2 separate regions of the Homo sapiens genome follow, and region 2 is linked to region 1. Evidence: fine-mapped expression QTL. A gene starts in region 1. The other region holds a variant in brackets. All regions are shown on one strand. Distances are between the middles of the regions.

Region 1 (2,912 bases):
GGTGAAGCCAGCTGGACTTCCTGGGTCGAGTAGAGACTTGGAGAACTTTTCTGTCTTACAAGAGGATTGTAAAATGCACCAATCAGTGCTCTGTAGCTAGCAAGAAGTTTGTAAAATGCACCAATCAGTTCTCTGTAAAATGGACCAATCAGTGCTCTGTAAAATGGACCAATCAGCGCTCTGTAAAATGGATCAATCAGCAGGATTCTAAAAGTAACCAATCGTGGGGAGAATTGAGAAAAGGGCATTCTGATAAGACAGAAACAGGACATGGGAGGGGACAAATAAGAGAAAGCTGGCCACCCCAGCCAGCGGCAGCAACTGGCTCGGGTCCCCTTCCACTCTGTGGAAGCTTTGTTCTTTCGCTCTTCACAATAAATCTTGCTGCTGCTCACTCTTTGGGTCTGTGCCATCTTTTAAGAACTGTAACACTCACCACAAAGGTCCGCAGCTCCATTCTTGAAGTCAGGGAGACCAGGAACCCACCGGAAGGAACTAACTCTGGACACAATATTTTTTTTTCTTTTTTTAAATTTTTTTCTTTATTTCTTCTAAAAAAAAGTGGGATGCATGTGCAGAACGTGCAGGTTTGTTGCATAGGTACACGTGTGCCATGGTGATTTGCTGCACCTATTGACCTGTTCTCCTCTAAGTTCCCTCTCCTCACCCCCTACCCTACAACAGGCCCTACAACATTCCCCTCTCTGTGTCCATGTGTTCTCATTGTTCAACTCCCACTTATGAGTGAGAACATGCAGTGTTTGGTTTTCTGTTCCTGTGTTAGTTTGCTGAGGATGATGGCTTCCAGCTTCATCCATGTCCCTGCAAAGGACATGATCTTATTTCTTTTTATGGCTGCATAATATTCCATGATATTTTTCAAAAGAAAATATTTGCTGCCAACAGAAGATTTTATATTAAAATCTGTATTTGCAGCTTTTACTGAAAAGAACCTAAGGCCTTGCCATATTGGGCTCATTTTCTCAAATAGCAACATTTAGCTGAACTGAATAGACAGAGAAAGTACTTTCCAGTCAGATCATATCTGGCCCACTTTCCTCGTGTATGTTACCCTCCTCACTCCTGTAGGCATTTGCATGTGTAGTCACAAGCAAATGTGGTTTAGAAATTGTTCAGTGAACCATGTTGGAAAATGTCCCTAAACACAAGTCCTAAAGATGGTCTGTTATATTATCTTACAAGCACACAGTGGAAGGAAAAACAGTTAAGTTTTCTATTTCTGCCACAGCTTCTATAATTATTACCTTTCTTGTGCCCTAGGTTAATATCTAAAAATAGCTTTATGCTTTCTCAAACACATTTCACCAGCTCCCTCTGCTGATCCAATCTGAAGGACAAAACAGCTTAAATTCCTTGTAAGTCCTGAACTTTAAAATCACATTTCTGGGGTTGGAGAACTCCAAGCATGAAAGAACTTGATGAGGTAATGGTCATCTAAATAACTTTCTCCTTTGGACAGCTCCTATGGTAATCCAAGCAAGAGTCAGGGTGTAGAAGTTTGTTTCCAAAAGTAGAACTCCTGTTTCGCTGAGAAAGCTGTAATTTGGGGTGATTTGGCGCCCTCTACAGACTATAATGGCAAAAGCGACGCTATCATGTGCTTCCCATAGCTTTAGGGCTTTGCCAGAACTATGACGTTGAGGAGGGTGGGGTAAAGGGGCAGGAAGCGTTTATGTTCTGCCAATCCAACAGCTGTATTCTAACTCACCATTCCGCCCTCCCTTAAGATCACGGAAGTATCACGCTTGCCTCTTACACAACTTTTTTTCCTTAGTCTGTATACTTTCTGCTGTCACTAGCATAACAGAAAAGACGAATGGCTTTTGTTTTAAACTGAGGGCACTTTTACAAAAGTCATCTTTCCATTTATTTTTCTTTCAGAAAAAAGAATTTGGGTTTTGAGCTTTTTTAAAAAAAAAAGACAAACACTTTCCTTGACTTTGAGAAATAATTTAAGTCAAAGAATCTGCTCTATGCTAACCAAGGTAAGTGTCCTGGATTTTTTTTTTAATGGGGAAATGATCCAGAAACTGCTTTCACAAAAGATGAATGTTTTTCTTGGAGTGTGTTCCTTAAGAATGAATGTGATTATCTTCTTTTGGGGTCTCTTGACTAGGGCTAAAGCAAGAGAATTAAGGAGAGAGTCAGGAAGCAAAGGGAAGTTGTAAGGAAACAAAGTTATGTTGTGGACAGAACCATCCAAAAGGAAAGTGTCAGTGAGATAAACAGAATCATGAGACTTTCAGTGACTCCAGTGACCTCTGATTTCATCTTATGAATGAGATGGAAATGCCAGCCATTGGGAAACAAATACCCCATAGATGGCGTGGGAAAAAAATACTGTAACAAAGCAAGAGCATGGTAGGATGATGATAAGAAACATAAAATGATCAAATTTCAAATTCAAAGAAATCATAATTGATTACATGATTTGCAAATCACCCAAGTCTCTCCATGTCTCATAAAGGATTCCTACATTTGCTGGTCAGTCAGGTATAGGGTGGGGTTTTCCCGTTGTACAAAGGTCTAGTTCAATAGGTCAGGTCTCCTTTCTGCCAAGGGACTAAATATAAGCAACCTATGGCTGGCACGGTGGCTCACGCCTGTAATCCCAGCACTTTGGAAAGCCGAGGAGGGCAGACCACTTGAGATCAGGAGTTTGAGACCAGCCTGACCAACATGGTGAAACCCCGTCTCTACTAAAAATACAAAAATTATCCAGGCGTGGTGCCGCCTGCCTGTAGTCTCAGCTACTCAGGAGGCTGAGGCAGGAGAATCACTTGAACCCAGGAGGTGGAGGTTGCAGTGAGCCGAAATTGTGCCACTGCATTCCAGCCTGGAAGACAGAGTGAGACTCCAACTCAAATAAATAAATAAATAAATATAAGCAC
Region 2 (2,912 bases), 46 kb after region 1:
TCACCTAAGAAAGCAGGCAAAGATAAGCCTTCATATTCTTGAGACTTTTCAAATGTCTCATCTGACACTGCAGAATTCTTTCTGGCATTTTTGCAATTTCAACCATTTAGCATTAGTATGAGCGAAGTTTGACCAGCAGGCCATATGCTACCAACCAAAGCTTGCAATGCAGCTTAGAATTTAATTTCAGGAATCCTTTAATCCTAATAATGGAGAAATTGAGATTCACTTAGGTAAACTCAGCCTAGACCTAATTTGACCCTTGACAGTCAATGATTTCTAATTAGGTCTTGCAGACAGGGAAGGACCAATCAAGTGCAGCAGGCTGAACTGCTGTGTGTACAGTTTATGGCAAGGAGTAATTGGAAAATCCAGTCTGAGCCTGTACTTGGGCCTTTATAAGGGGTCATGGTTCAAGCTGAAGCCGACAGTTTCTCTCAGAGCAGCAGCTATGAGTCTTGCACCTCCCTGGTTGAGAATGAAACACAGTTCCCAAGAACAATTCGTAATCCCATTACATTTTAAAAATATAATTAAAGGGAATCTTGGTGGGTGGGTGGCAAGATGACAGAGTAGGAACAGCTCCGGTCTGCAGTTCCCAGTGAGATCAACGAATAAGGTGGGTGATTTCTGCATTTCCAACTGAGGTACCCGGCTCATCTCATTGGGAGTGGTTATACAGTGGGTGCAGCCCACGGAGGGTGAGCCAAAGCATGGTGGGGCATCACCTCACCCGGGAAGCACAAGGGGTCAGGGAACTCCCTCCCTTAGCCAAGGGAAGCCATGAGGGACTGTGCCGTGAGGAATGGTGCACTTTGGCCGAGACACTACACTTTTCCCACAGTGTTCACAATCCGCAGACCAGGAGATTCCCTCAGGTGCCTACGCCACCAGGGCCCTGGGTTTCAAGCACAAAACTGGGCGGCCATTTGGGCAGACACCAAGCTAGCTGCAGGAGGTTTTTTTTTTTTTTTTTTTCATACCCCAGTGGAGCCTGGAATGCCGGCAAGACAGAGCCATTCACTCCCCTGGAAAGGAGGCTGAAGCCAGGGAGCCCAGTGGTCTAGCTCAGCGGATCCCACCCCCATGGAGCCCAGCAAGCTAAGATCCACTGGCTTGAAATTCTCGCTGCCAGCACAGCAGTCTGAAGTAGACCTGGGACTCTTGAGCTTGGTGAGGGGAGGGGTGTCTGCCATTACTGAGGCTTGAGTAGGCAGTTCTTCCCTCAGAGTGTAAATAAAGCCACCAGGAAGTTTGAACTTGCAGGAGCCCACCGCAGCTTGGAAAGCCGCTGTAGCCACCCTGCCTCTTGAGATTCCTCCTCTCTGGGCAGGGCCTCTCTGAAAGAAAAGCAGCAGCCCCAGTCAGGGGCTTGTAGATAAAACTCCCATCTCCCTGGGACAGAGTGCATGGGGGAAGGGGCAGCTGTGGGCACAGCTTCAGCAGACTTAAACATTCTTGCCCGCC[A/G]GCTCTGAAGAGGGCAGTGGATCTCCCAGAACAGTGCTCAAGCTCTGCTAAGGGACAGACAAAGTCCTCAAGTGGGTCCCTGACCCCCATGCCTCCTGACTGGGAGACACCTCCCAGCAGTGGTCAACGGACACCTCATACATGAGAGCTCCAGCTGGCATCTGGCGGGTGCCCTCTGGGACGAAGCTTCCAGAGGAAAGAACAGGCAGCAATCTTTACTGTTCTGCACCCTCTGCTGGTGATATCCAGGCAAACAGCGTCTTCAGTGGACCTCCAGCAAATTCCAACAGACCTGCAGCAGAGGGGCCTGACTGTTAGAAGGAAAACTAACAAACAGAAAGGAATAGCATCAACATCAACAAAAAGGATGTCCACACAGAAACCCCATCTGAAGGTCACCAACATCAAAGACCAAGGGTAGATAAATCCACAAAGTGAGGAAAAACCAGCACAAAAAGGCTGAAAATTCCAAAAAACCAGAATGCCTCTTCTCCTCCAAAGGATTAAAACTCCTCACCAGCAAGGAAACAAAACTGTACAGAGAAAGAGTTTGACGAATTGACAGAAGTAGGCTTCAGAAGGTGGATCACAACAAACTCCTCCAAGCTAAAGGAGCATGTTCTAACCCAATGCAAGGAAGCTAAGAACCTCGAAAAAAATGTTAGAGGTATTGCTAACTAGAATAACCAGTTGAGAGAAGAACATAGATGATCTGAAGGAGCTGAAAAAAACAGCACGAGAACTTCGTGAAGCATACACAAGTATCAATAGCTAAATCAATCAAGTGGAAGAAAGAATATCAGAGACTGAAGACCAACTTAATGAAATAAAGCATGAAGACAAGATTAGAGAAAAGAGAATGAAAAGGAAGGAACAAAGCCTCCAAGAAACATGGGACTATGTGAAAAGAACAAATCTACATTTGATTGGTATACCTGAAAGTAACAGGGAGAATGGAATCAAGTTAGAAAACATTCTTCAGGATATTATCCAGGAGAAATTCCCCAACCTAGCAAGACAGGTCAACATTCAAATTCAGAAAATACAGAGAACGCCACAAAGATACTCTTCAAGAAGAGCAACCCCAAAACACACAATCATCGGATTCACCAAGGTTGAAATGAAGGAAAAAATATCAAGGGCAGCCAGAGAAAAAGGTTGGGTTACCCACAAAGGGAAGCCCATCAGACTAAGAGCGGATCTATCTGCAGAAACCCCACAAGCCAGAGAGAGTGGGGGCCAATATTCAACATTCTTAAAGAAAAAGAATTTTCAACCTAGAATTTCATATCCAGCCCAACTAAACTTCATAAGTGAAGGAGAAATAAAATCCTTTACAGACAAGCAAATGCTGAGAGATTTTGTCACTACCAGGTCTGCTTACAAGAGCTGCTGAAGGAAGCACTAAACATGGAAAGGAACAACCAGTACCAGCCACTTCAAAA

Which allele goes with the higher level. Positions count from the first base shown, and alleles are read on the strand shown. Sizes are in standard deviations (SD) of each study's normalised expression.
For the expression in putamen of the gene that starts at base 1,776 in region 1, allele G in region 2 goes with a higher level than allele A (small effect, 0.25 SD a copy in GTEx).

What was found. PIP is the estimated chance that this variant, and not a neighbour inherited with it, causes the effect. A credible set is the group of variants that fine-mapping cannot tell apart.
Region 2: its variant is the best candidate, but not a certain one, in a credible set for the expression of FMO4 in putamen (GTEx, PIP 0.61).

What each region holds. Positions count from the first base shown.
Region 1 is chr1:171,312,408-171,315,319 of GRCh38, forward strand. FMO4 (flavin containing dimethylaniline monoxygenase 4) reads left to right here and starts at 1,776. Exons shown (of 10, transcript NM_002022.3): 1 at 1,776-2,006.
Region 2 is chr1:171,358,671-171,361,582 of GRCh38, forward strand. No RefSeq gene overlaps it. Among named protein-coding and RNA genes, the nearest start is that of FMO4, 46 kb to the left of the region's middle. The variant A/G (reference allele first, on the strand shown) is at 1,468.